Linked DNA regions of Homo sapiens: region 1 is linked to region 2. The links come from fine-mapping of genetic effects on gene expression. A gene starts in region 2. The other region holds a variant in brackets. All regions are shown on one strand. Distances are between the middles of the regions. Region 1 holds the start of RERG-AS1 (RERG antisense RNA 1). Region 2 holds the start of RERG (RAS like estrogen regulated growth inhibitor).

Region 1 (16,096 bases), 65 kb after region 2:
CTGTTGACTATATCAAGGCGGTCCAATGGGTGGGTGGAAACACAGAGCCTGGAGAAACTTGCTAGTGGTGATACAGGACGTCTAATAGGTGGCTGCACTGAAGCCCCAGATGATCAATCCTTTTCGGATCAATATTCTAGCCCAAAGTTGGGGGTGCAAGCCTTGTTCATGTCCCTTGGAAGTGGGAATTAATGAGCTTCACAGGCTGTCAAAGTCTCAAAAGAAGGGAGTAGGTTCAGAGAAGGCTCATGTGGTAAGCTGGACATTAGCTTTATGGATGTCCCAAATACTTAGATTGTTTAGGAGAAGTCTAAAGTTTGGTGAATAGGCAGTGAGTTTTGAGCTTACTTCAGAAGCTCTAGAAAGGAGGATGGATGAATCTAGGCCCCACAAATGGTAATGGAGCCCCTATGTAAAACTTGCTCCAGTCAGGACTGGCTCAGAGATCAGTGAGTCTTCTGGAGTCAGACCTTATTAACTGTGCCTTGTGCTAGTCAATTAACTGAGTAACCTCATCCATTCTTGCTCTTTCCCTGCTTTGCTCTGTTTTAAATAGAACTGCATTTCCTTGTCTCTCTTCTCCTCTTCATTTCTGGCACATTTGGCCAATGTGAGGTAGTAGCAGAAGACTGCAATATGGAAAGGAAAAACCACAATGTTTCTCTCTCTCTCCTCTCTCCACTCTCCTCTCTCTCTCCGCCCTACCCCTTCCTGTAGTATTTCCTGTGATGTTTCCATTCCTGTGGAGTAATTGGGTCCCATCTAGAGTTCTAATTACCTTAAGAAAGCTCCTCCTTCAATGATCGTCTTTCCCACTAGGCAGTCTTCACTGACTCCAGCTTCTCCTGGACAGCTCCAGATGCTGGGCTCTGGTTACCCATTTCCTCCTGTTGTTTCATCACCTCTAGTTGTGGTTACAGTTTTCTCCTGTTGCCTTCCATCTCCTAATGGCTTCTCAGGTTTTTCATCATTTTGGATAATAATTTCCCTTGATTAAATGCATCGGTTTGAAAGACGTAGAGTGGTTTCTGTTTTCCTGGCTAGACCCTATGATACACTCTCACTGAGCAGATCTGGATTCGCAGCAGAGACCATCTGACTATTAAATTACTTTCTTTCCTCTATTCCACATGTATGTCTTATCCGCTACTGGAAACACTTCCCCTATGTAACCCAATTCTTCACATTCATGTCGAATCTTAGTTCTTTTGGGTCATTGTTCCTTTGCTTTCAAATCTGTATATTCATTGGAAAATTAACAAGGGCAACGTTTGAAATATGATCCAGGAAAAATGACTCTGAGTCACAAAATGATGTTATCAATTTTAATCTTCATCTCTTCTTCTTCCCTGCTCCCTGAGTCATCCAATTTTTCTAGCATATTATTTATTTCTCTTTTTTCAATATCAGGCCACCTGGCAGGGATAACGTCTGCTTGGCTTTTGTGTAGTGCTTCTGGCATTGTTGACTCACTGCAAAAGAAAGTGCTATAGTCTCCACCTACATTTTGTGATGTTTCAACAAAAGGTTGAAACTAGGGATCCTCGTTAACACAACCGGGGGCTCAAGGGCAAATAATACTCATATTGCTTCAGCAAAGTTCATCAAAATTCTTAGCAAAAATCTAGGCTTAACCTGAACATCTCCATAAAACCTATTGCTAATAGGAAGAATGGAAACTCTTCATAATATAAACGTATGTTATAGGACTCTAAGGTCTAGAGCAATATTGTAAGGAGGTCTAGGTTCCATTTTTCACAGTGGCAGGAATTAGCTGTGTGATGATAGGCAAGTTTACCTTTCTGAGATAATTTTCACATTTGTGAAATAAGGGAATTGGACTAGGTCATCTTTAAGAGCCCAGAAAAATAAAGCTGAAACCACACCGTAAATTTATTTGGTTGTGTTTTTAAAAAATTCTTCATGTTATATTTTCCTTCCTTGAGAACAAAAGAGCTCTTCATGTATGTAGAAGAAAGGCTTCTCTGCTGCCTTTTCTCACTTCAATACTCCCACCCATTGTAGTACCATTTATGTTTTGACCAATGGATGTATAATGCTTATGTATAATGGGACATGTATGATAATTAGGGATCTTAATTATTCCTTCATCATAAAAACAATGCTATAGGACCTGTCTCTAAGAATGAGAGAAAACTCTAATGGGGTTCTTAATTATGGATTTTAAGCCTGTATAGTTAATATTTATATGCCCAAGCTCTCCCCAGTCCTCTTAGCTGGAGGATTTATCTGATACATTGGAATATTTGAACTCCTGATTTCTTTTTTTATTCTGATTGATGTAAGACATACTTTCTCCTGGAGGCAGTCCTTGGCCAGGGCTGTGCCTGGACCTTGTTTCACTCAGTGCATAACCAGAGTAGTCTGCCATTTCAGCAATGAGATTTAGGTCCTTCGGCCCTCAAACATTCCTCTTCCCATTGCTTTGCTCTTGTTCTGTGTAAGTATTCTGAAATTCATAAGAGATTCATTTTGATTAAGGCAGTAGTCTCATTTTTCAAGTCTTTCTTTAGACAGCACTTCCTCAGGGAAAATTTCCGTTCCTACCACTAGTCTAAGTTACAATGTATTTCTACAATGCTCTCGAATCTCCTTACCAGGTAAGGATACTGGGTTTAAATTTTGCCTCCACCTCTTAGTAACTTTATGAAAATTATTTAAGCTTCATAAGACTTAATTTTTAAACCTGTGAAATGGGAATAATAACAGAATATACTTTGTATGTTTTGGGAAGAGGATTTTTAATGCAAAATACTTAGAACAGTGCTTGGCACATGGTAAATGGTCAACAATATGTTTTATTATTATTATTATTATTGTTATTGGTAGTATTGATTCCTTAGTTATATATCTTTACCACCAGATAGTAAGCTGCATGAAGGCAGAGACTGTAGGTCTTGTGTATGGTTCAAGTCCAGGCTCCTAACATAGGTTCTGATTCAAAATAGGTGCTTGATAAATAATCAATCAAGTGAATGAGTGAGTCTCTAAAATCGTTTTCTAAAATGCATGTGCTTCCAGGAGAATTAATTGAGTGCACCAGCTACTCATGGTGAGTGAAGGGGATCTGGCTGGTTCCTGAACAGGCAAAATGTAAATGGGAAGAAGGAGGAAGGAAGGTCCAGAGTGTTTGGTGAACAGGTCTGTGCACTGTACAAGGGGCTTTCAGGAACTAGCTTATTATTCCTGAGACTGGAGAGGACCTAAGGAGAAGATAAACATTCTCCAAAGAATACACTTGTTGACTGATGTTTTCCTTGGGATGGTCCATATGTACAGATTATACTGTGTGACACAGTGGCCTACTTTATTACTTTATTTGTACTAGATAGAGCAAAACACTAAGTGATGCCCCTGTTTCTTTCTTTCTTTCTTTCTTTCTTTCTTTCTTTCTTTCTTTCTTTCTTTCTTTCTTTCTTTCTTTCTTTCTTTCTTTCTTTCTTTCTTTTTCTGAGATGGAGTCTCACTCTGTTGCCTAGGCTGCAGTGCAATGGCGTGATCTCAGCTCACTGCAGCCTCCGCCTCCTGGGTTCAAGCAATTCTCATGCCTCAACCTCCCGGGTAGCTGTGACTACAAGCATGTGCCGCCACACCTGAGTAATTTTTGTATTTTTAGTAGAGACGGGGTTTCACCATGTTGGCCAGGAAGATCTTGATCTCCTAACCTGATGATCTGCCTGCCTCGGCCTCCCGAAGTGCTGGGATTACAGGTGGGAGCCATTGCGCCCAGACGATGCCCCTGTTTCTAAGGAGTATTATTCCCTAAGGCTTTAATGCTTATTGAGCAAACCCTGATGTATTTTTCCAATTCAATTCTTACATCTCCGTCTCCACTATGCTGCCATCCAAGCTGTGGGGCTGCGTTAATTCTTGACTTCCAGCATTCTGTGTAATGCCTTCAAATGTCTTTGGACAAAGCATGATCATAATTAATATAATTATTTTTCATATGCAAAGTATTTTATTGTGGCAGTATCTCTTTTGATCACTAAAATTATCCTGTGGGATAAATAATTTAAATATTACTGTGATTTCTATTTTAGACATGAAGAAACTGAGATTGAAAGGTTAACAAATCTAAGGCTACACTCCAAATTCTGCATACCTTTTGCGGTGTGATTTCTTCTTGTTTCCTTTATAGATGGAGCCCTTAACAAAAGTTTTGAAAAGCCCTTAACAAAAGTTTTCTAAAAAGCCATGTTTCAGCGGCACCTGAGATGCTTTGCACCTGCTGCAATCCCTGTGTGCCTCATTTCAGCTTGTCAAGTGGTCGGTACCCGCGCATGGTTACTGTGCTGCCCAGCGAGGGTCACAGTGCTTTGTACTTAGAATTCGTGAAATATACACAATCTAACACTACTGTTTTCAGTACAATATCAAGACAAGGATTCAAAACAAAAAAAAATGACCAAAATGTGCACATATATATATGCACATATATAGAAGTGTACAAATAAAAACTGCTCAACTGTGGAGAACTGTACTTAGCCATTATAATGAAACAGATTTGCTGTTTTATACAAGTAGAAATTTGTTATAGATACTAAATATTCGTGTTCATTTTTCCCTCTATTTTCCAAAATGTATGATAATCTCTACTGCTTTCTTCCTTCTTATATCAACTATGGAATATCAAAATTTTCTTAATTGTCTTAGGCCAAGATGCATTAAATCTCACCCTTTTCCATTGTTTGGAAGATAAATTTGGTTGGGATTTTTTGTTGTTGTTTTGTTTCCATTAAGATTTTTTTGTTTGTTTGTTTGAGACGGAGTCCTGCTCTGTCGCCCAGGCTGGAGTGCAGTGGCACAATCTCGGCTCACTGCAAGCTACGCCTCCCGGGTTCACACCATTCTCCTGCCTCAGCCTCACAAGCAGCTGGCACTACAGGCGCCCGCCACCACGCCCAGCTAAGTTTTTGGTATTTTTAGTAGAGACGGGGTTTCACTGTGTTAGCCAGGATGGTCTCGATCTCCTGACCTCGTGATCTGCCTGCCTCGGCCTCCCAAAGTGCTGGGATTACAGGCGTGAGCCACCGTGCCCAGCCCTCCATTAAGATTTTTTAAATTGTATCAATAGATATAAATATGTCCAAATCAATAACTTTTATTTGAAAACTAAAAATCCTGAGAGGCCAAATACAATGTTTAAAATATATAGTTAAATCAATAATAATTCTCCCTTCTGTAAAAGTAAATAATTATCTTTATGTGAGAACGAAAAAGGTATTTCTGTACTAGTAAGGCAGCAAATTATGCAAAAGCATGAACTACTATTGTGGTTGTAGGCCACAAATGGTAGGGACCTATCAAGAGGACACAAGAACCAGCTTGAAAGGACTCTCCCTGGTGACTTCTGAGACAAAGTAATGTCAGTAATGGATTACAATCCATTGAACAAAAAAAGAATACATGGTTCCCTGTTGATATAAACAGTAAGTGTATAAAAAAATCAACAGGGAGAAAGACAAGTTCTTTCTTACAATAGAATATCAACCAATAAATGTAGAAGAAATGACAAGTTAGAAAACTATCATTCGGAAATTATCAAAATAATTGATTCAGGCAGGAGTCACCAGTGGAGGCTGAAACTAATGAGTGAAAGTGTGGTGAGGATCAGGATATTTACATAGTTTCAGAATATCTTCCACAAATTGCTCATTAATTGTCAGATAGAAAAATAATAACTTTACATTGGAAAATTCTAAAAAAATGCCACCTTAATAAAATAAAATAAAATAATGCCACCTTAATAAAATAAAGTTCATGTCACCAATGATGGGACATGAACCAACAACATATGCCTCCTGATATGAAGCACTAAGAAGGACACACATCGTTCTGTAGCATTTCTGCCCCAAAATACCTAATCCGAATCTAATTATGAGGAAGTATTAGACAACTGAGGGACATTTTAGTCTATCTCTCTTGAAAAACTGTGTACTCTTCAAAATTCCTTATACTCTGCAAAAATGTCAAAGATGAAATATCATTAAAAAATGCTGAGAGGCCAGGCACAATGGTTCACACTTGTAATCCCAGCACTTTGGGAGGCCGAGGTAGGTGGATCGCTTGAGCCCAGGAGTTTGATCCCAGCCTGGGCAACACAGTGAGACCCCATCTCTTAAAAAAATGCAAAAATTAGCCAGGTGTGGTGATGTGTGCCTGTAATCCTAGCTACTTGGGAAGCTGAAGTGGGAAGATCACATGAGCCCAGGAGGTCGAGGCTGCAGCGAGCCAAGATCATAACACTGTGTTCCAGCCTGGATGACAGAGCGAGATTCTATCTAAAAAAAAACAAAAAAACAAAAAAACTGAGGAACTGTTCCAATTTAAAAGAGTGTAAAGAGTTATAACAACTAAATGCTATGTTCAGTCCTAGATTAGATTCTGGACCAAGGAGAGGAAAGTAACTAGAAAGGGCATGATTGGGACAATTGAAGAAATTCAAATATAGACTGTGGATTAGATAATGTCATTGCATCATGTTAAATTTTCTGATATTGATAATTATACTTTTGTTATCCTACAAAATGTATTTATTATGAAGTATAGATATTGAAACACTTAAATGTAAGGAGGCAAAATGTTTCCAACTTATTCTCAGGTACAGAAAAATATGAATGTGTGTATATATATTTATTTATACATAAATATTTATGTATAGAGAGAAGGGAGAGTGAATGATAAAACAAATGGGAAAAATGTAAACAGTTTGTGGATCTGGATAAACAGAATATGAGAGTTATGTAATCTTTTCTCATAGCTTTTTTCTAAGTTTGAAAATATATACAAAAGAGTGACAAAAAAATGTTGAAAAGCAAAATTTTCTCATCAGTAAAGGCAGTCATTTACATTGTACTGTGATGAAAAAGAAAAGCCTGGCTTATTCAAATAAGCAGCCAAAGCTCTTATTTCCTAGTCATCAGTTATCTTTGCGTGCTTTGAAGTTGGAGTTCTCTTTCATGTTTGTATTGTTTTTATTTGTTTGTAAGTATAATGTGGGAACCAAAAAGAGTGAAAATGGGACACTCTGGTAAGTTATCTCTACCACTTTAGGGGACAGGAAGCAGCTGACAAGCTTTAGCACTACATTTTCATGGTTGTTTCCCAAGAATGGCCATAAATTACATCCTTCAAGTCAGTCCCAACTAGTGGGAATTCATATGAAAAATTACTTGCTG[G/A]TTCTCAAGCTTCTTGCACGTCCCTCTTGACATTTTGTCATAGGAAAACTGGGGGTGGATGGATTGTAAAATATTTCTCAACATTACAAAACATTTTAAAGCTGATACCAGACCTACACTCATATCTGCTGATTACAAATAATTCTAAGCTATTCTGGTATGCCCTGAGCATCTGTCTTATATGCAAAATAAGTGGCCTCTTCTGTTTTCCCCTGTCTTCTTGAACTGTCTGTCTCTTTTCAAAAACTGTGTATTCTTCAAAATTCCTGCAATGCCGAATGAAAAACGGAGGCCATCCACTACAGTGGAAAATGTAGAGCAACTCCAAGAAAAGAGGCTGGAAGAAAAGACAGGCTTAGAGATGTCTGACAGACTTGAAGATGGTTTCCATTTTCCCATTTTGCAAGAGGGGCAATGGATCCTCTAACAACAGAGCCTGAGTTAGTATGTTATCATGTATTACCTCGTTTAATCCCCTCAATATCTCTATGAGATAGGCACTATTTTTATCCCTATTTTGTAGCTCAGATACAGGCTTAGAGGTTTAGAGAAGTAAATAACTTGTCAAATGTGAGTAGTAGGGTTGAGATTTGCACGAAAATGCGCCTGACTTCAGGGTCTGACTTAAGCTTAAACTGCCTTGTTTTATTGATCATATTGATCACTCTATTTCTTTCTCCTGAGGACTCGCAAAGCAATGATAATACCATTCTGCTCTTGCATCATTTGTTGCACATTCTTGTTTAGAAAGAAAATACTAACAACTATTAGAGATTTTCTGAACCTAGTAATTTCATTAACAAGCATTCCCCAAGTCTACAGGGCAAATTTTTTGATACTCACAATGTTACTTCTTGTGAAAATTTTGAAGTGATTTCTGAATCATCAGAGAGATAGAGATTAAAGTGACACTGTTTTAAAAGTTGGTAATTATCATACAATTGCATGAAAGCTGATGTGGTATTTGTGGTAAACTTCCGTATTAGGATGGGTAAGCCTGTATGGCAGGGTTCTTAACCTGAACTCCAGATCCAGCAAAGGGTCCACAGGTAGATTTCAGGGGGTCTGTGAACTTGTATGGGAAAACATTTCATCTACATTTTCATGCACCCTTAAATGACATTTGGCACTGCCTTCCATGATGAATGTAGAAACAAATCACAGTGTTAGCAATACCTGTGACTTTGTCCCTAATAGAAATGATGGATATTTCCATTCGTATCAGTTGTTGCTGATATCTCAAAATGTTATTTTTCGTCATCATTAATGTGAAATCATAATTAATAAGCTCAAGACCAGATTATATTGAACATATTAATAAAGAATGTAATTACTATATCACCTATTTATTTTAAAAAATGTTTTTCTAACAGTATATCAATATTTATAAATATATATATATATTTTTTTATTATACTTTAAGTTTTAGGGTACATGTGCACTTTGTGCAGGTTAGTTACATATGTATACATGTGCCATATTTCATCATAGTTGATTTTATTTGTAATGACATATATTTTATATATATTTAAAAAGTATTATTATGAGAAATAGTTCAAAGGCTGTGCACAAATGGTTTACAGCACAAAAGGGGTGAAAGATCCAGCTCTATAATATAAACTTCATGGTAGCCCTAGTGGAGAATACCCTTGCTTAACAACTGGCTGTTTTCAGAGTCCCCTGGGGGCCCTGCAGTGACTCCAGGAGTAGAGAAAGGCTGTAAATGCTAGAACAAGATAATTGTCAGGTACTACCAAGAAGCCCTACCCAGCCTTCCCAATTAGAAGACAGGAGTCCCCCAATCCCAACCACTTTCAGGTCCTAGTTTCTGCCCAACCCCATTACCTGTTCTTCTTACTCAATTTTAATGAAAGCAGCTCTACTGGCAGCAACTTCATTGTGACCCCAGTGCTCTGGCAAGCTGGGCCTGTGTCAGCAGGCCACAGGGGTGGATGAGAGCCAAGACTTTTGTGATTGCCTCTACCCTCATTTTCCTGTGGAAACACAGCTCAGAAGGACTATGCTGGAGGGTTGATCAGCTTGGTTATGTATTTGCTTTGCGGAAACCTTAAGTTGTCCTTTTATGTGTCACTTTCTCTCATTTCATTTTTTTAATCCTTTATTTTCCAACAGGCAGGTTCTGGTCACACCTACCCAGGTGGCACCAGGTGTGTGCATGTTTTTCCAAAAGTTACAATGCAGCATAGACACTGGAAAATGAAGATGAAAAAACACAGTGGTGTTAGATTACTTCATATACTTCAACACCATGCCTGCTTTTTCCTTTTTTTAATTGCTTGTTTTATATTCTTTATTTAGTTTTTTCCAGTCTGAATATCTCTTAGCTGAGTTTCTTATCCCAATTAATCATTTTATACATACACTGGTTTCTTTTCCAAGTCTCTTTGTAAAGCAAGAATCAATATGAGGTGTCAGTGTCTAAAGCCTTCACACTTAGCAACTTAACATTTTAAAAAATGAAAATATATAATACTACAATTTCATTTAAATTAACTATTCTGAAGCTCCTCCATCAAATATTAGGAAAGACCCTTTTAAAGTTTAATACATTTTTAAAATTCTAGGTATGAAAATTCTGTTTACATAATAGTCTTTAAGTTGCTGTCTCACCTAAATAAGACACAGAGGCAGTGTTTATGAATATGATTGCCGAGTGAGATTGAGACAAATTTCAACCTACATTGATTGTCCTATTTGGCAGGAGACCAACGAGCTGCCACATAATGTACGCACCAGAAGACTGGCTATGTTCTTTGGCCATCAGCGGATGTCCATGGTTGCTGCCTATAATTGCAGTGTTTTTCCCATTCTGCAAATTTCTCATTAATCAGGTTACTTTAGCTATTTGGCCAAATTTTCCTCGAAGAAAATGAAATACAATCAATCCCTGATTCTTTTCTGATTATTAGAGACACTGCTCTCCTTCATAAGGAACAATAATCAAAGTAGAATTTATATTTGGCTTCATAATGCAATATGTGAGTTTTTCCAACAGATTTGCCCTCTTAATTGCTTTGGTCTGGCAAACTTTAAAAGGAACTTGCCTTACGTGGATGGCAGTATGAGGTTGTCCAGAACTGAACCGGGTGGTTGGCAATCTGAACAAAGCTTCTGTGCTTTATTGATTGCCAGGGAGACTCGGGGGCTAAATGGCAAGCCAAAAGACAAGGATTCAGAATATATAACTGTACTAGTTTGCTAGCACTGCCTCAACAAAGTACCACAAGCTGGGGGGCTTAAACAACAGAAATTTACTGCCTCATGCTTCTGGAGGCTAGAACTCCAAAATCAAGGCGTCAGAAGGATTGGTTCCTTCCAAAGTCTGTAAGGGAGGATCTGTTCCCTGCCTCTGTCCTAGCTTCTGGTAACCTCAGGCCGTCCTTGGCTTGCAGATGGTGTTCTCCTTATGTTTCCATATCATCTCTCTGTGTGTGTCTGTCTCTGTGTCCAAATTTCCCCATTTCATAAGAACATAGTCATATTTAATCACTTAGGGCTTACTCCAATGAAATCATCTTAGCTTGATCATCAACAAAGATCTTATTTTTAAATAAGGTCACATTCACAGATACTAAGATTAGGACTTCAGTGTCCTTTGAGGGGACACAATTCAACCCATAACACTATCTATCTTGAAAAATCACCAGAGAGGATAATTTATAGCCATTGGTAAAATTTATGCAAATCATACAATTTCCCTTCAGTCAATGCATTTATTCTGGGTGCCATATTTAGATGATAGGCTGCCAAAAGTAATGCACCGTGAATATTCTTTTTCTTTATATTATAAAAGCTATTCAATTACTCCTGGATTTTCCAGGAACTATGGTTCTCTAGTTCCTTATAAATCTCAATGGTATTTTTCTGAATCTTACTGCTTTCCTTTTATTTATAAATACTAGACTCTCCCACTTTAAGCAAATTTCTAAAGACTGGGGTAAAAGATCTCTTTTGTGAGCAAAGTGCATGTCTAGGGCCCTGTTATTTAAGAAATTTAAGATCATCAATTTCAAACATTCAAAGCCTATACTGCTGGTTCATATTTTTCACTATCCAGAACAGTAATCTTCACAATGGTTAGCTGTGTTCTCTAAAAGTCGCAGATAATTGTTATCACATTTAAAATCAAGCACCCATCACAACTCCCCAGTTCTTTCTTTTAGGAAAACCTAAAGAAACCTTGGATGACCTTAAGACTCTATGGAAAAGCTGGAAAAACACTGACCCAGAAAACAAATGTGTAACAAGTCACATTTTTTCCATTACTTAAGGGAAATTGTGGTGCGAATTTTTTTCTTAATCTCTCTGCTAAGTGTAAATATGTGACTCACCCGAACTACCTCATTCTTAGACCATAAATATTAGGAGTGATGACTTATAAGGGGCTCATGTTCATGTGTGGTAAGTAAATACTTGTCTGCACATATTAATTTAACAAGAAAATGGCATTTTCCTAAGTAGCATAACATCAGAAACAGTAGAGAATTTAATATAAGTAAAAAGCAGTGTTATATTTTAAGAAAATTACTATGATGAAAGAATTCATTTTTTTCAAAGAGTAATATAATAATATTAGGCTTTAATACCTAAGAACATGCATGCTAGATCTGGTTCCAATCCAAAAAAGTTCTATGAAACTTCAAATACCATGTGAAGGTTAACTTTTAAAAATACATTTCTTCAGAGCAAATTTCTATTCCTAGTCCATGCGAAACCACAGGGTGGTGCTCCAGCTGGACTGGTTTCCTCAATTCAAGTTATCCTTGTCCAGTTTCCTTCTTAGGGCACTGCTACATGAAAACCTGATGTGTTCTGTGTTCTTGCAGCAAACTCCTACTGTGTCCTATCTTGGCTCAGGCAGGACAAAATGAAGCTCTCCATCTCTAGGAGGTGGCTTGCTTCAGAGCCTTCTCTGTCCAAAACAAGAGTTTTTTCCATATTGTTTCTCTCTAGGCTTTTGAAATTAGAGGGGAAACACTATGGATAATAGCTTCAGAAAATATGAAAAGCTCACCTATTACAGCAGATGGGACTGAAGTATCAGTCCATATCTAAGGCAGGTGAATTGGTGCATTTGAAGCATTCCAAGTCAGTAGGACAGCCAGAAATATGAAATGAAAAGCACTAGTTTTCCTTAGCAATGAAATTTTGACTCCTATGACTTTGCTAATGCTGTGTTCTGCTTTCCTTTCTGCCTATTCTATTTGTACAACCTTCTGTGCCTTCCTCAGATGGCTTTCCAAAACATCTGTGGGCAATATTCCCTTCACTGAACAGCAATGGTACTTTAAGTGCAAAACAAAACAGCATTTACCTTTTGCAATTTATAGTTCCTGGGTTATTTCATGTGCCTTGTGGTTATCTCAGGAGCCCTTTATTAATCTCCGAACTGTAGGCAAGAAGGTGGTCTTGTTGTCATGGTAATAACTTCAGTACTTAGCACATGGAACGCAGCATTTATTGTAAAATACTTTTCCAATCAAATGGTTGCAGCAGTTTTAGAAGTCATAACAGTAAGGGTAGCATGCAGTTCATGAATTCCTTCATCAGGAGGAAAAGACTGACCTGATTTATAAAGGAAAAGGAAGCATAATAAAAGTGGAATTCTGTTAACCTAACCATATTAGTTCTCTTTGCTTAGAGTTAGGGGGTGTCCAATCTTTTCCAAGAAAACTTTGTATATTCTGGCAGTGCCCTCTGGTGGATGATTTACTATGATCCACTACCATTCAGTTCCTGGACATTACATTTCACCTGAAAGATTTCTACCTTTTGTTACCACTTAGCATTTTTCCCCCCATCTCAAGATGAATAGTGTTTTCTTTCAAAGTTTCTTGAATATCTACATCTACAATCTACAACAAATGCCACTGGATTGTGGTTTGTAAGGAATATCTAAGGTGAATTCCAGCAAAGTGAATATCAGTTTCTACCACTTATTACTTTCAAAGTCATTAAATTGCTAATATGGGTGCAATTTGGCTGTTGCGTGGAAACACTTGGCTTGGGTATGTTTATGTAAATGGTTCAAAGCTGTGGACTGTGTATCTGGCAAGCTGCTTCTAAGAAACAAAGGAGAAATAGGCATGTTTTCCATTTAAAAGACATGTGGTTCTTATTGACTTACCGAGATTGGTTTTTGTTTTTGCTTTGTTTTATTTTCAAAGTCAGTTTTCCACTCTAAGATTAAGTGTGTTCATTATAGAAAACGTAGAAAATACAGAGGAAAAAAATCACCCATAGTCACAACAAAACCAAGACTGATTTTGGATGTAGCCTACGGAGGTAGAATGCTCCCCTGGGGTAGATTTTAGAAACAGGCTGTAGTGGACCAAAGGGGAGCATGGCATTAAGTTTCCACAAGCTGTTTTCTGTATTTATAAAGTACAATAACAATATTGCATGTATTATGTACTTTCATTTTCTGTCTCAAATTAGGTATGGAGATTGCATAATAATAATAGCAGCCATTTATTTAGCACAGAATTTCAAAGCCTAACCCTAGAGTTGCCCTTTGCCTCCTGGTGAACAGCAGTTCAGCCCACACTCAATTCTTCCCTATAACCTCCCACATCTCTGCCAGGATTTATTCTTGTAATAGTAATAACTGTTGTTTAACAGGTCCTCATTACACAAGAGAATGCAGCGATTAATATGCAGCCTGTTTGAATTCCAATTCTGGCTTTTCCACCTAATAGCTGAGAGATCTTGGATGAGTAATTAAAGTCTCTGCTTCAGTCTCCTTCTTTGTAAAATAAAGGCCCTGCCACACAAGGTTTTTTGGAGAAAACTAAGTCCCTAGAACAGATCTGGGAACATAAATGTTAGTTATCATTGTTAACATATTACGATGATATATTAGACATGATACTAAGTTCCTTATTACGCCATTTACTCCTCATAACAATCCTATGAGTTAGATATTCTTTATCCCTGTTTCAGGTAATGAAAATGAAACAGAGAGCTCCAATGACTTGCCCAAATCACACGGCAAGTTACAATGTTGAGCCTAGATATGAGCCTACATTTGACGGTCTATAAAGTTTCAGCTCGCCATCTTGTTTTGGCTCTGATAGGTTAGCTATTATTTTGCTTGTTTGTTTAATTTGTATTGAAGTATAAAATATATTTAATATATAAAAATGCATATTACACAGTTTACACTGTGTAAATATTCCCAAATGAAAAACTCCTGAGATATCATCACTGCATCTTTACCAGATCCCATCCAAAGGTGACTACTAAGCTCCCTTCTAATATCATAGCTGTGGTCCAAAAGTGAGCAGTCTTGGCCTTGTACCTACTCTCCCTCCCCGTCCTTTCCCCCAGTAGCCTTCAGGGGGGTTCACAGACCAAAGTAGCATAGTAGGAGAACCACTGTCTATACCCTGCATATGCAAATGCATTCATCTCAGTGGGTTGTAACTCTCAGGAAGGAAGGATTCTAAGGCCATAGAGCGCAAAGGAAAGTATGACATGATCGATTAGTAATGTCTATCATAGTCACGAAACGAGGATGGTGGAGATCTGTAGGCTGGTCCTAGACACCATTTATGAACAGAAACAACTTTTCTTTAAAGTATTTTATTTTCTACCATTTCTAAATCCAGTATCCATGTGAATTGGCATGTTGGCATAATCATGCTGTTGGCTATTTAGTACAAATAGGCTAAATATTAACCTAAGAATCATCTATGTGCATGTAACTTTCTGCATTTGTCCAATAGATCTTTTGAGAGAAATTACTGGAAGTGGAATTCCTTTCATTAAAGTCTCCACCCTCTTCTATAGAAGTAGCACTTTTCCCCTCCAGTATGCAACACAGGTCACATTCTGCCATGAACTAGTATTGTTAATGAACATCTTTCTCCCCATCAGAACTGCAAAGCCCTTGAGTACTAATTCTGTCTTGTGCTTTCATGTATCATCCACCTCCCCTCCCACCAGTGCCTAGCACTGGTGTTTTCTTTGTTCATAGTAGATGTGGATACATTTTTTTGGCTTTAAATATAAAGATACATTTTACTATTAATATTTTAAAATATGTTAAGAATTAAGTATCAGAATTCAGTCTATATAAGGAAAGCCTGAGATGAAGTGATAAAAAATAGATGAAAAAGTCTTGATTTTTCAGAAAGAACAAATAAGCAAATAAACACAGCCCTGTTTTTCTCAGTCACTATTAGATATTGAACATTAAGAGTTAAAGGACTGCAGGCTGGGCGCGGTGGCTCACGCCTGTAATCCCAGCACTTTGGGAAACCGAGGCGGGCGGATTACGAGGTCAGGAGATTGAGACCATCCTTGCTAATACAGTGAAACCCCGTCTCTACTAAAGAATACAAAAAATTAGCCGGGCGTGGTGGCGGGCGCCTGTAGTCCCAGCTACTCGGGAGGCTGAGGCAGGAGAATGGCATGAACCCAGGAGGCGGAGGTTGCAGTGAGCCGAGACGGCGCCACTGCAGTCCAGCCTGGGTGACAGAGCTAGACTCTGTCTAAAAAAAAAAAAAAAAAAAAAAAAAAAAAAAAAAAAAAAACAGAGTTAAAGGACTGCAAATGAATTTAATGAAACTATTGCCCAAATGATTGATGTTCATGTACAGACCAAAATTTCAGTGCTAAATAGACATGTTAATAATGATGCTGGAATATACGAGTATTTAAAAATCTCCAAATTCCTGGGGAATTAGTAGTTGTAATAAAAGTGACTTCTTCTCATTCACTTCATGACTCCTTAATGTCTCTGCACTTGCTTGGTATCAGCGGCTTATTTAACAAGTCACTGCACATAACTTGTATTCCTTAATAATTAATACACTTAAAGTTTCCTATGCTTACATGGATAGAAATGTTTTCCCAGTGTCTTAAGTTTG
Region 2 (16,096 bases):
TTTACTTTCAATCTATCTGTGCCTTTTTATTTAAGAAGTGATTTTTGTAAAAAGCATACAGTTGCATCAGTTTTAATCCAATCTGAAATATTCTGTCTTTTAACTGGAGTGTTCAGTACATGTACATTTAATGTAATTATTGAGATAGTTGGACGTAAGTCTATTATCTTCTTATTTGTTGACAAATTTTTCCATCTATTTGTTCCTTTATTTCTCTTTTCTTGCCTTCTTTTGTATTAATGGAATATTTATATTTTATTTTATCTTCTCTATTAGCTTTTTTGGTTATACTTTGGGATTCCTTTAGTGTTTTCCTAGAAATTGCAAGTGCATTGTTACATTATTGGTCTAAGTTAGTAATTTTGCCAAATCCCTCAATATGTAAGAAATTTATAACAGCATAACTTAATTTCTACCTCTTACTTTGTTTCCTACTGTCATATATTTTACTTCCAGAAATTATAAACCCACAAGACTTTTTTTTTTTTTTTTTTTTTTTTTTGAGACGGAGTTTCACTCTTGTTGCCCAAGCTGGAATGCAATGGCGTGATCTCGGCTCACTGCAACCTCCGCCTCCCGGGTTCAAGTGATTCTCCTGCCTCGGCCTCCGAAGTGGCTGGGATTACAGGCATGTGCCACTACGCCCAGCTAGTTTTGTATTTTTAGTAGAAACGGGTTTTCTCCATGTCGGTCAGGCTGGTCTCGAACTTCCAACCTCAGGTGATCTGCCCGCCTCGGCCTCCCAAAGTGCTGGGATTACAGGCATGAGCCACCACGCCTGGTAAAGACATTTTTATACTTGTGGTTTTCATTGGTTAATATTCATTTATTTTTACCCATTTATTTACCCTATCAGGAGTTGCTGCCACTACTAGAATTTTTTGGTTTTGCTTCCATCTGAAATCATTTTTTTCATTGTTCTGCTGACAATCAATAAACTATCTCAAATTTTGTCTGAGAATGACTTATTTCAACAAATACAGAATTCTAGCTCAGCACTTTGAAGACGCCTTTTCATTGTCCTAGGTTTTCCACAGTTTCTATTGAGAGGCTATAATCCATTTTTACTGTATTTTTTTCTTAAAAACTGTGTGTCTTTTTTGTTTTTTTTCTGTAGGTGTTTTTAGTATTTTCTCTGTATTTTGCTGATCAGTAAGTTGATGTATGCATGTAGGTTTAGCTTTCTTTTTATTTACCTTGCCTGGGGTTCATGAAACATCTTGAATTGAGGGATTACTACCTTTCATTAGATTTGCAAAATTTTCAGCTATTATTTCTTCAACTATTGCTTTTATCTCATCCTTTCATTCTTCTCTTTCTAGAACTCCAATTACATGTGTGTTATGACTTTTGATCATGTTCTACATTTTTCATTCTCTGTTTTGATCTTTCCATTGTTTATTTTTCCTCTGTGGTCCATTTTGGACATTTTCTAATGACAGATCGTTGGATTTACTATTCTGTCTTCCAATCTTTCAATCTACTGTTAAACCCTTCAAATGGGTTCTTAATTTTAAGTATTTATTTATAGTTCTAAAGTTTTTATTTGATCCTTTTCATAGTTTCTATTTCTCTGTGAAATATCCCCAAATGGATAAAAATATGATAAATACTTTATATTTTTATCTGTCTTTGTCCATTATTTCCTCTGTTGGTTTTAACATAATAATCCTAGCGATTTTGAAGTCTTCATCTAATTACTTCAATATATAGACATCTATCTTGTATTTTTATCTCTTGAGTATTGATAAATTTTATGTGCTTCTTGCCTATCTGGAAATGTTTATTGTCTATGTTATGAACTGAATGTTTGTGTGCCCTCAAAATGCATATGTTGAAGCCATATTCTTAGTGTGATTTTATTTGGAGATAGAACCTTTCCAAAAAAGAATTAAGGTTAAATGAGGTCATAAGGATGGATCAGATCCAATAAGACGAATGTCCTTATAAAGAGAAACACTGGAAAGCTCTCTTTGTCTCTCCACACACTCATACAGAGGAAGTCGTGTGAGCACATAAAGAGGGCCGCCTGCTGGCCAAAAGAAGAGGCTTCAGAATGAAACTTTCTTGGACTTCTTAACCTCCATAAATGTGAGAAATATATTTCTGTTGTTTAAGTTACCCATTCCGGGGTACTTTGTCATGGCAGCCTGAGCAGACTAATTCAGTAGGTTTGACATTGTAGATGATGGTTATACAGGCTCTGGATCCTGTTAACTTTTTCAAGAGTGTTGTATTTTGTTTTGGCAGGCTGTTAATTTGCTGGTGGATTAGATTGCTCCTGTAAAGGTCTCATTTTAGTCTCTGTTGTAGGGGGTTGTCTTTCAGATCCACCCTTAGTCCCAGGTTACAGCCCTTCTGCCTAAGGCATTAATGGTCCTCACTCCTACTTCACAAAGATTTCTGAACGCTGACTGGGCTGAAACTCGGATGTCTTCTCAGCACTCAGAGAACTCTGTAATTCACATCTTGGGATTCAGGAGCTTTCAGACTTTAGGCAGCTGTTCTTTTTTTTTTCAGTCCTTTTTTTTTTTATTACACTTTAAGTTTTAGGGTACATGTGCACATTGTGCAGGTTAGTTACATATGTATACATGTGCCATGCTGGTGCGCTGCACCCACTAACTCGTCATCTAGCATTAGGTATATCTCCCAATGCTATCCCTCCCCCCTCCCCCCACCCCACCACAGTCCCCAGAGTGTGATATTCCCCTTCCTGTGTCCATGTGATCTCATTGTTCAATTCCCACCTATGAGTGGGAATATGCGGTGTTTGGTTTTTCGTTCTTGCGATAGTTCACTGAGAATGATGATTTCCAATTCCATCCATGTCCCTACAAAGGACATGAACTCATCATTTTTTATGGCTGCATAGTATTCCATGGTGTATATGTGCCACATTTTCTTAATCCAGTCTATCATTGTCGGACATTTGGGTTGGTTCCAAGTCTTTGCTATTGTGAATAATGCCACAATGAACATACGTGTGCATGTGTCTTTATAGCAGCAAGATTTATAGTCCTTTGGGTATATACCCAGTAATGGGATGGCTGGGTCAAATGGTATTTCTAGTTCTAGATCCCTGAGGAATCGCCACACTGACTTCCACAATGGTTGAACTAGTTTACTGTCCAACCAACAGTGTAAAAGTGTTCCTATTTCTCCACATCCTCTCCAGCACCTGTTGTTTCCTGACTTTTTAATGATTGCCATTCTAAGTGGTGTGAGATGGTATCTCATTGTGGTTTTGTGTGAGATGTTATCTCATTGTGGTTTTGATTTGCATTTCTCTGATGGCCAGTGATGATGTTTACCAGATGTCTCAGAGACTCACCACGCAATGTGCAGCCCTGAAATTAGCCAAGATCCTAGGGACATTTCCATGCAAATATCTGAGCTTCTGTCTCCGTGGCTGCTGCCCTTTCTGATAGCCTTCTGAACCCAGTTGCTTTAGTAGCCCTGAACCCTAATCTCTCACTGATGTTTGGGCTTCACTTTCATGGATATGGGCCCTTAAAATGCCCCCAACAAGAAAATTTGTGTGCCTGTGAGGCTAAACTCCAGTACATCCCCTCTGTCAGATGTGCAGCCCTGCCTTGGTTGTTTGCCAATGCTTCCAAACAGCTATTTTGTATATTTTGGTTAGCCTTTATAGTTGTTCCCAGTAAACAGGAAAGTTCAATCTCAGCTAAAATCAGTCTTGCCTTTGCCTAATATTTAACTAAATAAATGGTAACAGCAATTAAATACTCATCCCAAAGTCAAAAGATAATCATTAGTAGCAACAAAATAAGGAAATGAGTATAATTTCTTGCCATGTAACTTCAAAATGAAATAAAGAAAATAAACGATCATGATATAGAAAGTCCTGGCTTTCCAGAAGCAGTACTGATGAGTGATCAAATCGTAAGTATTATTTCTCACCAGTTAAGAATGTCTGCAAATTTGGAGTGAAATGAACTGAGCAACTACACTTACCCTTTTCTGATGGGAGGAGAGGGCAGAGTGAGTAGTCATAGTAGAAATGGCTTGGGAGAGAGAGTAGAGGGCTCCAAGAATGAATGAAGAGTGCAATCTCAGGCTTAAGGGAATCTTTCTGAAACAGTATGTGATCCTGATGGCCTGCATTAAATCCTGAGACAGAGTCTTTAGTAAAACCTGAGAACAAAAGCAGAGCATGTAACCTCTCTCAGAGGCTGCACAGAGACTCAGAAGCCCTCACCTTCTCATCTCGGGATGGTAGACAGAATGCAATGCTCACCTTCAAACCATTGCTTTATAGAAAAAACAAACAGGCCTCAGACAAGGTAGGAATGAAGTCAAGCACAATTAACTGAATTTGTATCATAGCAAATATGAGTCTTGATCTAAAAAAGAAACCAATAATAAATATAAAAACACACTACACAGGAAAAAAAAGGAGGAGAAGGTCATTGTAAGCAAAAGTAGGCTAATAACAAATTTAAAAACAACAAGAAAAGGAAGAAACAGGTATTCTCAATTATACAATACAGCACCTGCAAGACCTTCTTGAAAACATTGCTTAATGAAGATATCAAGGGATGAATCAAAATAATCAATAATAGAAAAAACATGATAAAAGAATCAATGAAAGAAATTTATTCTATTTAAATATAGAACTAAGTTTAAACCACTTTGGGAATGAGAGTTATAAGTGGAAAGTGAATGTTACAAATCTTGACAATGAACAAACGAAACCTGTGTAAAAATATAGAAGGAGGGAAGAAAAAAAGAGACATAATAAAAGAGCTATTTTCTTCTTTTTAAATAGCAAACAGTCAGTTGATATTGACTAAAACAAATATATGTTTAAGCATAATGAATTCAGATCTGGTTTTATGTAATAATTCAAACTGTAAAGGAATCTTTAGGGTGAATATCTCATGAAGTAAGTGACTATCTCATGAAGTGAGTAAATATCTAAAGTTTGGTCAGCCTTTAATGTTCACTTTAATTTTGTTATCTTCTGCTTCATTAAGTGTACTTTTAAATTAAAAATAGCATCTACAGGATGATGACACTTAGCATATCTGTGCCATTTCACATACCTGTCCATCAGGATGTCTGTTTTCTACAATATCTGGAATGATGATGGTCCCCTTATGTTAACAATGGTTATTATTTCTGGATAGTGTGATTCTGGGGATGATTTTCTACATCTTTGTATTTTTCTACTGTTTGAATTATTTATAACAAACATGATTAACAGCTACACAGACATACACACACACAATTCCAGTTTCTAACATGCTTTGTGGTTATATCAACACTTCGTCTACTTGTTTTGTGTTAGAGGTTTTAGCTGAAGCCTAAGGCCAGGCTAAGAGACTTGAATGTGACAAGGACTTCCCCTTTCCCCAGGAGAATTCTTGCCCAGCAAACATATGTCATGGAACCGTAAGTACAAAGTGTCCTCTGCCCTTCTTACTGATCCATGAGGCAGGCAGCACAAGAGAGCGTGCCTCTTTTTGCTGCTTTAGAGACAAAGGAAGCAGCCCGCAGAATATAGGATACATACGGAAGATGTAACACAGTGGGAGTCAGGCTCCAAGATAGCTACTTCATCTATCTTAGAGCAGCACATCAAGAACTGCAGATGTGTATGCAAATGCCTCCCTAGTTGAGGGAGGAATGCTGTTGTTATATGGGCTAAGCAGGAAAATGGAGAGAATCAGGTTCCATAGGCAAGTTCCAAAAGAACTACTACAAATGGGACCTGGCTTGGGCCCTCTTCGAAAACTTACTATTATTATTTTTTTCTTGAGACAGAGTCTCTTTTTGTCACCTAGGCTGGAGTGCAATGGCACGATCTTGGCTTGTTACAACCACCGCCTCTGGGGTTCAAGTGATTCTCTTGCCTCAGCCTCTGGAGTAGCTGGGATTACAGGCTCCTTCCACAACGCCTGGCTAATTTTTATATTTTTAGTAGAGATGGGGTTTCACCACGTTGGCCAGGCTGGTCTCGAACTTCTGACCTCAGGTGATCCGCCCATCTCAGCCTCCCAAAGTGTTGGGATTACAGATGCGTGCCACCACGCCTGGCTAATTTTTTGTATTTTTAGTAGAGACGCTGTCTCTACCCATGTTGCCCAGGCTGGTCAATAACTCTTATTAAATAAGAGTGGCAAAGTGGGAATTCCAACTCAAGTCTCTGTAAATAGTATATTTACAGATATAGGGTCACAGATTTTTTTTTTTTTATTAAATCTTGCCCTGAGTATAAGATTTAATGGGGGAAACAAGGTAACATGTGAAACCTGAACACCTTAATGCCACACGATTCCATGTAATTGGAATTCTGTAAGATTCTATATAATGAATCTGGGTAATTATTATCCCATCCCAGACTTCAAAGATCTTCTGCATGCTAAGACACCAAAGTCTCTCTCTTTTCCAGGCCTCTTTCTTAAATGTCGCAGCCCCATACATTCAATTTCTTACTGGATGGTCTATCCTAAATCCAGTATGTAAAAAAGCTCAAACATATCCTATCACAACTTCTTCTTTATCTTAATTCATTCAATTCAGTAGGTATTCTTTAACTACCTACTATATGCCAGGCTGTAGGTATACACACTGTATGGATGATGCTGGGAATACAGAAGTCACACATGGTACATTCCTGGCTTCTGGGAGCTCACAGATTAATGGAGAGGACTAAGGGGCAGAAATGAGTACAACACAAACACAATGATAAGATCACAGGGTCCTGTGAGATACAGAGGGAGGCATCTAATCCAGATGTATGTGGTGTGGAGGGAGGGGTACATTAGTGATCAGGAAACTCATAAACCATACAATGTTTGAGCTTTCTCAAAGAACCAGCAGGGCAGCTCCTGCTCAGCTAGGCAACTCCTCTTTTTGCCATAGATCTAGCTGTTCCATTCAGCCATTCACTCGTGGCTGCAGTGACCTTCCAGGTCAGTCTGGACTCTGGAAATTGCCTCCATGGTTACCTCCCTTCCCATTGATGACATTCTACAGATCGTTCAGTTTGCCCTAGGCCCCTGTCTGTTCTATATAACACTGGTTTTCTGGAAGCCGTTTGGTATCTTGGTAAGAATACCCAGATTTATAAGGGAAAAACAATAACATAAGTGCCTCCTGCTTCTTTGCTCAGATGTTTCAGTTTTTGGGAGATCATTTAGCCTCTCTGAAGCTCACCTCCTCATCTGTGAAAGGCTAGTAATTATAATACTAGTTCTTACATGAAGAGAGGGTGTAAAAATCAAATCAGATGAGGGATATGAAAGCAGGTCCAGCACAGCTCGCATATTAATTGTCTTTGTTAGGGTCTGAGCATAATGGAGTATGACTCCAATGCAAATCCTATAAATGCTGATCCTGTAAGGAGGACGAGAAGCTTTTGGAACTTTCTCAAATATATGAATAGAATTTCAATTGAATTCCTTGTTTGTTTTTCCTAGCATCTCTCAGTTCCCAATCCAGTCTGGATTTCATTCCAGCCATTTACTAGCCTTGCGTTACCTTCTCCTTCAGTTTCCTCTTGGGTATCATGGAGATAATTAAAGATACTTCAAAGAGATATTGCGAGGATCATTTGAAATAAGGAATAGAAAACACCACGTAGTGATGCTTTCTTAGGCAAGGTTTTGACCGAGGAAAGCCGCCCTTCGGTGGGAGCCTGGAGGCTTGGAAATAACCAGTGAAAAAGGGAAGCCCGTCTTGGGTGCAGCACGTTAAAGACCCAAGCTCGCAAGCCTGGGAGGCAGCGCGGCGGGAGGAGCCTGCCCCTGCCCCCAGTAGGGGGCGCCGAAGCGCCGCACTGCAGCATCCTGGCCGCTGAGCGCAGCGGCCTTGGCCGGGCTCAGCTCGCGTCCTGCCGCAGTCCCTCCGCCGCTAGTCGGAGCGAGCGCGAGTGAGGAGACCCCCGCCGGGCCACTGGCACTTGCTTCTGCGGCGAGTCCCACCCACGACCGCAGCCCAGCAACTCGCAAACGCAACCTGAAGCCTGGGCTGCGCAGTGTGGGAGGGCTTCGCGATCTTGGGGGACCCATTCCGAACTTGCAGAGGACCGTAGCTCTCCTGGCCTGGAGAGTGTGAACAGGTGAGTGTCACGCACGTGTCCAGGCAGCTCTTTCGGGACGACTTCCTGCAGACCCATTCCGAGCCCTGAGCGCGCTCGGCCTCTGAGTCGGTCCTCTTGGTCACCGGGTTCTCCTCCCAGGGCGGCTTTGGGGTTCGCTGCGAGGGAGATGTGAACACCAGCAGCCTATCTTGACAGGGCTCTCCTAGCTGAGAGGGAAAATGCCCTTTTGACTTAAGGCTGCATTTTCTCCCTAGCCTGAAAGCAAGTGACTTGCAGTCCACAATGGATTTGTTTATTCTTGCAAGATACCTGTTGAGTTCAGAGCAACATTAAATAGCCAAGGGGCTTATACAATTATCCTGGTTTGCTGTGGGTACTGCGTAGTGATAAGAAGAGGAAGAATTCCTAGTAATGAGACCAGGAAAACTTGATTTCAGAACCAGAGAAGGGGAGGCCAAAAAAGAAGAGAATCTCATTTCCAGGCCTAGACTAGGGTCTTTGCTTCCCTAAATAGCTACACTTGATTTTGATGAGCGCATGCAAACAGAAGTTCCAAGCATGATTACCTTATAAAGACGCTTGCTTGCCCCACCCCCAAGAGGAAGTAGAAAGCATGAACCTTGATAAATATAGCCTTGAGAATGATTTATTAGGAATGAAAACTTTCTTTAAATAAGTAAGTAAATAAGGTTACAGTTATCTAAATATCATAGGTCTAACAGAGTGTAAGCTCTTCGAAGGGAACTACTTTTATTTGTATGTGCATAGCGTGAAAGTGTGGAATAAATCAATGAATGCATCACTAATAATACAGGATTTTAGCTAGCGTTTTTCCTTTTTCCTTTAATTTATGTTTAGGGAAAAAAAAACCTACACCTTCAAACTAAATAGGTATGATTTTACCTTTAGAGTGATAGCAGCTGAGATGTTTTTGTCCTAATAAGCACCATCCACATAAAAAGTGAATGGCAAATTTCAGCCCTACTCAGAATATTTCAGCAGAACATTAGGACAAATGGATTTTCTTAGATCCACGTATGGAAGCTCTCAGATTATGAATTATTTGGAACATCAGAAACTTGGCAACAGTTTACTTATTACAACAATTTACATATTTATTTTTGTTTTCTATCTTGTCAAATGTAACTTTTCACATTTTCATGTGAGAAATAAAATGTTGAAGAACTCCTGTCAGTTTTGTGTCTTCCTTTAAGTGATTTTTCTAAACATAAAATTAGGTTGACAATAACCAGCTGTATCTTTATTAGGTTATAAATGGAAAAAATAGCCCACACAATTTCTCTTTCTTATGTGAAATTCCTATGCCTCTGGGGCCATTTGGGAGTTACTAAAAAATGTGACTTGTCATTTTTTTAAAATCACATTTGATGGCTACTTTCATGAAACATTAATCAGACAGATAATTACTTGCATTTTATATCCATGTATATGAACAGTTTTGCATGAAACAAAATTATTGTTTATACTAGCTGCAGACACTTGCGTGTTCAATGTTTCAAAGAAATACTTGCCAGCACCTCTTCTCATTTATAATTTAAATAGTTAATATATCTCCACATATTATGTTTCTGTGATGAAGCCCTGAACCTTAAAAACATAGGGCCTTTTCTTAATGAATGCATCTAAAGTGACAAATAAGGAAATCTTTTTATCTTTAGCCAAAAATATGGGACTGGACAAATTGCAGATGTTTAAGCTTCTGGTTTTTGCTAATAATGATTACTTAGACACTTTGTCATTATTGAGGATGAAGTAAACAATAGCTAATGTTAATGTTGATTTTTCCTTCCTTCAGAGGAAGCTCTGGCACTTTGAAAATCAGCAAATACAAAACCTTATTAGGTACAGGATGATAGCTTAAATACCTAAGGAAGAAAACAATTACATGATAATGTCTTTGTAGAAATACTTTTTCAGGCGGATTTTCACTTTTTAATTTCTCTCTCAAGAAGCTCTTTGTAAAAATTTATAGATGGAAAAATCTGGCAGGAACATTTAACACATTTAGATAACATATTTGTGTTTAAAACATCTTTACTGCCTTGAAAATGGAATGAATTATGCAGACTGGTGTGATTAAGATTAACACGGGTAAAAGTGCTGTGCTGTATTTAGGTTTAAGCCATTGATTGCAAATGTTCGGAATGAGGGGGTCTGCAGTCCGTGTAAAAGATGTGAGGCTTAATGTGATTGGCTGTGCTACAGTATAACCATGGTGGGCAGATTAACGATAGTGAAAATCTCAGGGAATTTACACCGGGTCAGTTTGTCAGGTCATATCTCAAAGTGGAATGCAGTGGACACCATGCTTTTAGAGTGATTAAGATGTTGAGGAGGCAATGCACATGATGAAAAAGGGAGTGAAGGTCAAAAAAACATAAACGAGAGTGTACATTCCGGGAAGAACAAGTGGACAGGCTGGGCCTCATGTTCCTAGAAAAAAGAAGCCTAGGATGGAGCAAAGGGTCCTACTAGATGCTAGGATCCTTGAACGGTTCTGAGTGAAAGAAAAAGTTGACTTGTTTTGAGTTATTTCATAGAGAGAAATGAGGACAAATGAGTAGAAGCCGCAGGGAGACAGTTTAGAGCTCAATATTAGAAAGATAGTTCCTCCTAATTGGAGAAATGAAGCAGCTTTCAGAAGTAATGAGCCCACCTTTCATACCTGGAAGTGGTAAGTCAGGCATGGAATATGGAATGATTGTTATGTCCTAAGGAAAGATTCTTGCTAGAAGAATGGCTAGAAGATTTCTTCAGATGACCCCCACTCCAGCCCCCACCACCACCAAAGCTCTTTCCAAATTTACGTTTCCATGATCCTAAGAACCTAGATGTCACTCCTAAAGCACCAAACTAAATAAGATGTGCTTACTTTGTACATAATGTTATTTCCCAAGCTTTAAGACAGCACTATAAACAAATTTACTTGAAGTCATCATAGAAAAGGAATAACTTGGAGCATGGCATTTATCGTTTTTGTACCAGGGCATTGTGTCCAGCAAAATATAGAAATGTAATCTATGTATTATATATTGATTCCTAGAACATGTGTATCTGTATCTGTCACAGGAATTCATCATGTGATCAAGTGTGAATTGAGAAAAAATTTAACTTTGAGATGCAAAATTGAATTGTGTTGCATTGGAGTTGACTAATATGAATGTATGTTATTCAACCCAAAGAGACATGAAGAGGCCCAAAAGTGACTCTCTCCATTGCCCCACTGCATGTGTTTGTACACTGAATGCTTACAGATAGATGGTAAATGTGTGTATTCACTTTTACTTTCAGTTACTATCAAGAATCAATACCTTCATAAGAAAATTTCTTGAGGAAGTACTTTAGAAATGCTATTGTGTGTGATAATGCACGTTTTAGTACCAACCAGATCCAAATCCAAGTCCTGAATCTACCATTTATTAGTTAAATCATTTACAGTAAGTTACCATAGACTTCTCACAGGATAGTGGTAAAGATCAAACCAGAAAATGTTGAAAAAGTGAATGGTGGCTGGCATATAGTAGATGCTCAATAAATATTAATTCATTTTCCAGTCACTTATGAATTCCCAAATTTCTTTTGTTTAAGGATTGTGGACTCTTCCAAGATTCACAATGATATGGTGAATCCAAAGACTGGAACCAAAAAGATTTACTCAGTGCTTTAGTTTTAACAACAGTAAATTGTCTACCAACACCCATCATGGCTAAAAGTGCGGAGGTCAAACTGGCAATATTTGGGAGAGCAGGCGTGGGCAAGTCAGGTAAGATTTTCGTTGTGGTTGTTATAGTGTGTGTGTGTGGGTGAGTGTGTTTCTTTATTACTGTTTCTTGGGATTGGGCAGGTGAGTAGTTGGTATTCCTCCTATTTTCATTTCTTACTCTTTTAGATAAAGTCTCTTCATCTAGAACTTTTATTTTGCGTAATCGACTGTTACGTATCCTTTTGCTTATTTATGCTGAAGTAGCTTTGCTGATAACACACAAGATAAAGGATATATCAGAGGTCTTGGCATTCTGATTTTTAACAACCTCCAAAGAAATCAGATGATGGAAATTAAAAAATATATATTTGTTCTTTTCTCTATGTATGAGATCTTGAGGGACTGATTTTACATCTCATTCATTTTGATATTCTCAGCAAACAGTCCAGTGTCAAGCATGTGTTAGGTGCTTTAAAAATGCTTAAGTGAATCTAGCTTTATCAGAAACAGAATTGCATTATTGCCAAACACTCAAAAATCCTGAGAGGATTCCTGAAACTTTAGGAGTGCATGCTCTCAAGCAAGATAGCTATTGCGAATGCCTCTGCAGTGAATTTAAATTAGCAAGTTCTGGCTAACATCAGTAATTCAGAGACTTTGTTCACTATCTGAGAAATCGCTAGCAGACCTTTAAGATTAAGGGTGAAATGGTGGAAGTGAAAAATGTACCTGCTATCTAATTTGAAAAATACATCTTCGATCTTATAATTAAAGAATTCCAAAGTCAACGTTGCTGAAACATTAGGGCAGCATGACCTTTCAGGGTAACCTCTTGCCTTAGTCTCTTACTGGAGGAAGGAACCATAATTAACTGTACACAGAGCTTTTGGTTCTCAGGAAAGGACTCAAACAGATATCTGGTAGGTGCATGTTTGTAGAGGGAAACCTGTTTGGAAATAAACTGTATAATCCAATACATTAGGTAATCCACAAAATCTTAGACAAATACACATAATTGCTTTTTAATTCTGTGACCAACCTTTCTTTTCTAACCTGCTGTCTGGTTTAATTTCAGCAGTAATCTTCCCTCTTCTAAGTCTTTGTCTCTCGTTTTTCTTTTAATTTTCTCAAGAGTACTCTTTCCTGCTACCACCATTTTCTTCTGTTTGGTTTGCTCTTGCCTCTGGCAGAAACCACACAAGGAAAATAGATAGTTGGCAAGGCTAAGAAACTGCCAGCCTTCACAAGATTGAAGATAGTTAAACTCCTCCCTGTTAATCTCCTCAGTGTTTCCTAATGGCGTGAGAACCTAATTTCTGTAGCTGGTAGAAGGATCTGGAGAATGAGGAAATGATTCCTGTGAGTGGAGGATGGAGGGAAGGCAGTGTGGGAGAAGATGTGCACTGCCAGCAAGAGCTTGTCTAACTCCTTGTGAGTGCAGGGTCTAGGCTTGAGGCTGACCATTTATTCCTTCATTCCAGACTTCCAAAGGCAATAAGGGAAGGAGATTTTTTAAAACCTTGTATCATTTGTTAAAATAACCTACATGCGATTTAAGAAGTCAAACATAAAAATGAAAACTCAGCTGAGAGAACCACGTAGCTGTACGTGCGTCCATCCGTTTCCCATCTTCATGATCTCGGAGCAAGCTGGGTGTCTCCTCCTGTCAAGGCTCATGCATCAGCCTGAGCTGGGATGCCTGTTTTCGTTGCCTTTCCCCACATTGTTTCAATTATTCCTCTCATTCTCACCTGACCATTTTTCCTCACGCATGTCTTCGTCCACTGCTTCATCTTTTTCTTTTCTTCAAGCTTATTGAATATGGGTTCTTCCCTTACTGTCTTATCTTTTTTTAACTCTCCCATTCATTGCTTAAAACATAGCCATCTTCTGTTACAACCATGCTACTGAAACTGCTTTTGCTAAGGTCACTACCAAACAATGACCAACACATCTAATGATCATTTTCCAGTTCTGATCTTCTTAGACTTCTTTCTATCATCACACAGCTGCTTATTCTTTCCTGAAATTCCTTCCTTCCCAGGCTCCCATGACATCACACTCTTTGGCTTTGCTGCTCTCTCTCCGTAGCTCCTAACTAGCTGTTTTCATGGGTTTGCTCTTCGTCTGCGCACTTCTCAAAGTTGAAGCTTCCAGGGTTCTATATATCATCCTCTTGCGTCCTTACTCCATACACTGCCCCTAGAAGTGCTACTCACACCCAAAGCTGAAGATAACACCTGCACAGAGAGATCAAATTCTGCTGACCTGAATTTTATTTTATGTAAAATGCACAGGTTGAAATTGCTCACTAAGTTTCTTTCCAACTCTAACATTCAAATCTTCTTTGGACTGTTTTCTCTATTTGCCTTGAATACATTCCACCATTTGTGTTTGTTTTCATTTAGGTGAAAATGACAATGACAGACTACATATCTTTAACAATTGCCTTTTTGTCTGTCATCTATAAACAGACAGTGTTTTCCTATGTCAACATTAAATTATTTTTCTGAGACCTGTAACTGCACCTCACATTTTAAAAGTAGCACTCGTTTGATGCATGGGTGAAAATTGTGAAACCTTTTTCCATAGTTCAGTGAAAACGACCACAAACTACTTCATATCTACCAATTTTATTTTAAGACACTGGGTCTCCCTCTGTCGCTCAGGCTGGAGTGCAGTGGCATGATCATAGCTCACTGCAGCCACCAACTCCTGGGCTCAAGAGATCCTCCCACCTTGATCTCCCCAGTAACTAGGACTACGAGTGTGTCCTACCACACCTGGCTCATATGCAACAATTTTGAAAATAGACTGCAACAATATTGAATTTATGTTGATTCTGATTCTTTGTGAATATGGCTATTTGATGTCTCTGCCTCATCATTGTATCACACATTTATCTTTCTACTGCAGAGACTTTATCAGTCTTATAGGTAACTTTTGCTTGTTTAAGTCTGCAAGAAATTATACCTGCTGGAATGTAATTCGGTAGCTCCTCACTGAATTGTTTCAGAGGCTTAAGTCTTACCTGTCCCCTCTACTTTCCCCACACTTAATACCAGTAGGAATTGGGGGTAAATAAGACCATATTGCCCATTTGCTAACGAGGAGTCGTATAGCTTGGAGTTAAAGAGTGTGAGCTTTTGTTTGCCCTGTGAACTTGGCAACTTTGGCAAGTTACTTAACCAGTCGATTTCTTCAACTATGAAGAACATATAATAGCATCTCAGTTGTTACTAGGATTGAATGAGTTGTTACATGCAAGTGTTCCTGGCACATTGCAAATGCTCAAAATTAGCTTATATTATTATAATTTGTTAAGGTATGCTTTTTTAATTTGTAAGTTCCACAGTGAAAACATACAATTAAAGATATACTTGCATTCAAGTGAGTATTTTGGTTTTCACTAAGTCAGACAGCTTATAAGGTAAAAACTCCACACACGCGCACACACACACACACACACACACACACACACACACACACACATACTTTCTCTGTTTTTCTCTTTCTTGAACCTAAAATCTGGTTAATGTCAATTATAGCTTGACCACAGATGATCATAACAATACTTCGTATGGCTTATATTTAATCTTGTAAAAAGCCAGAAATATATTAGTGTCACCAATAAATTAACACTTTTAAATTTGAAAGTGCTTCTGGTATGTGGCAGATGGCTTCCTAAGCCCAGGTGATAGATAGGCCGTCTATATTTAAAACAGAATTTAACATTTACCAGAACTTTTTCATTGACAGTTTGACCACAGACATGTCAGCAAAGGCAAAAATTTAATAATGTGCTGATTACTAAGGAGCACTGATAAAACATGTGAGGGATGTGTGTATGTGCACGCACATGTGTGTAATATATAAGTGTTTACATGGTCTGCTGTATTGGGGGAATTCTTGTTCCTTCTAAGTTTATCTTGCAGTTCTGTCTTCAAGTGAGCTTGCTGGCATAGGGATAGTACAGTGAACTCTGTGGGGACGCTGCAAAGTGTAGGGTCATGATTTCCCAGCCCTTTCTATCTTTTCTTGCCCCAGCCGGGTAAACATTTACTTTCATTGGCTAAGGGTGAAGCACTAATAATGTGGCATGCAAGGCACAGATTTCCTTACTTGTGTGCATCAGCCTATATTTTGACAAGCTCCAAGTAATTAAAGTGATAAGACTTGCCAATAAGCCTAGAATGCACACATTTTTATTTAAATGCTTCTTGTAGTCGTATTATTCAGATTTGTAGTAAGTGTGGGAGGGGGCTGATAGAGAAACAACTGAAATTGTAAATTTAGCTTCA

The links.
Region 1: its variant is fine-mapped to the expression of RERG in tibial artery (GTEx, PIP above 0.99).

Annotation. Positions count from the first base shown.
Region 1 is chr12:15,148,512-15,164,607 of GRCh38, reverse strand. All of the region lies in intron 2 of RERG (RAS like estrogen regulated growth inhibitor), which reads left to right. It overlaps RERG-AS1 (RERG antisense RNA 1), which reads right to left and starts at 12,685. Exons shown (of 3, transcript NR_046559.1): 1 at 12,538-12,685; 2 at 10,268-10,368; 3 at 9,325-9,412. LOC124902887 (a long non-coding RNA gene) reads right to left here and starts at 2,033. Exons shown (of 3, transcript XR_007063223.1): 1 at 779-2,033. The variant G/A (reference allele first, on the strand shown) is at 7,203.
Region 2 is chr12:15,213,188-15,229,283 of GRCh38, reverse strand. It overlaps RERG (RAS like estrogen regulated growth inhibitor), which reads left to right and starts at 7,867. Exons shown (of 5, transcript NM_032918.3): 1 at 7,867-8,089; 2 at 11,681-11,855. The coding sequence starts at 11,795. It overlaps LOC124902886, which reads right to left and starts at 8,616. Exons shown (of 1, transcript XM_047429948.1): 1 at 7,306-8,616. The coding sequence starts at 8,039. The coding sequence ends at 7,722.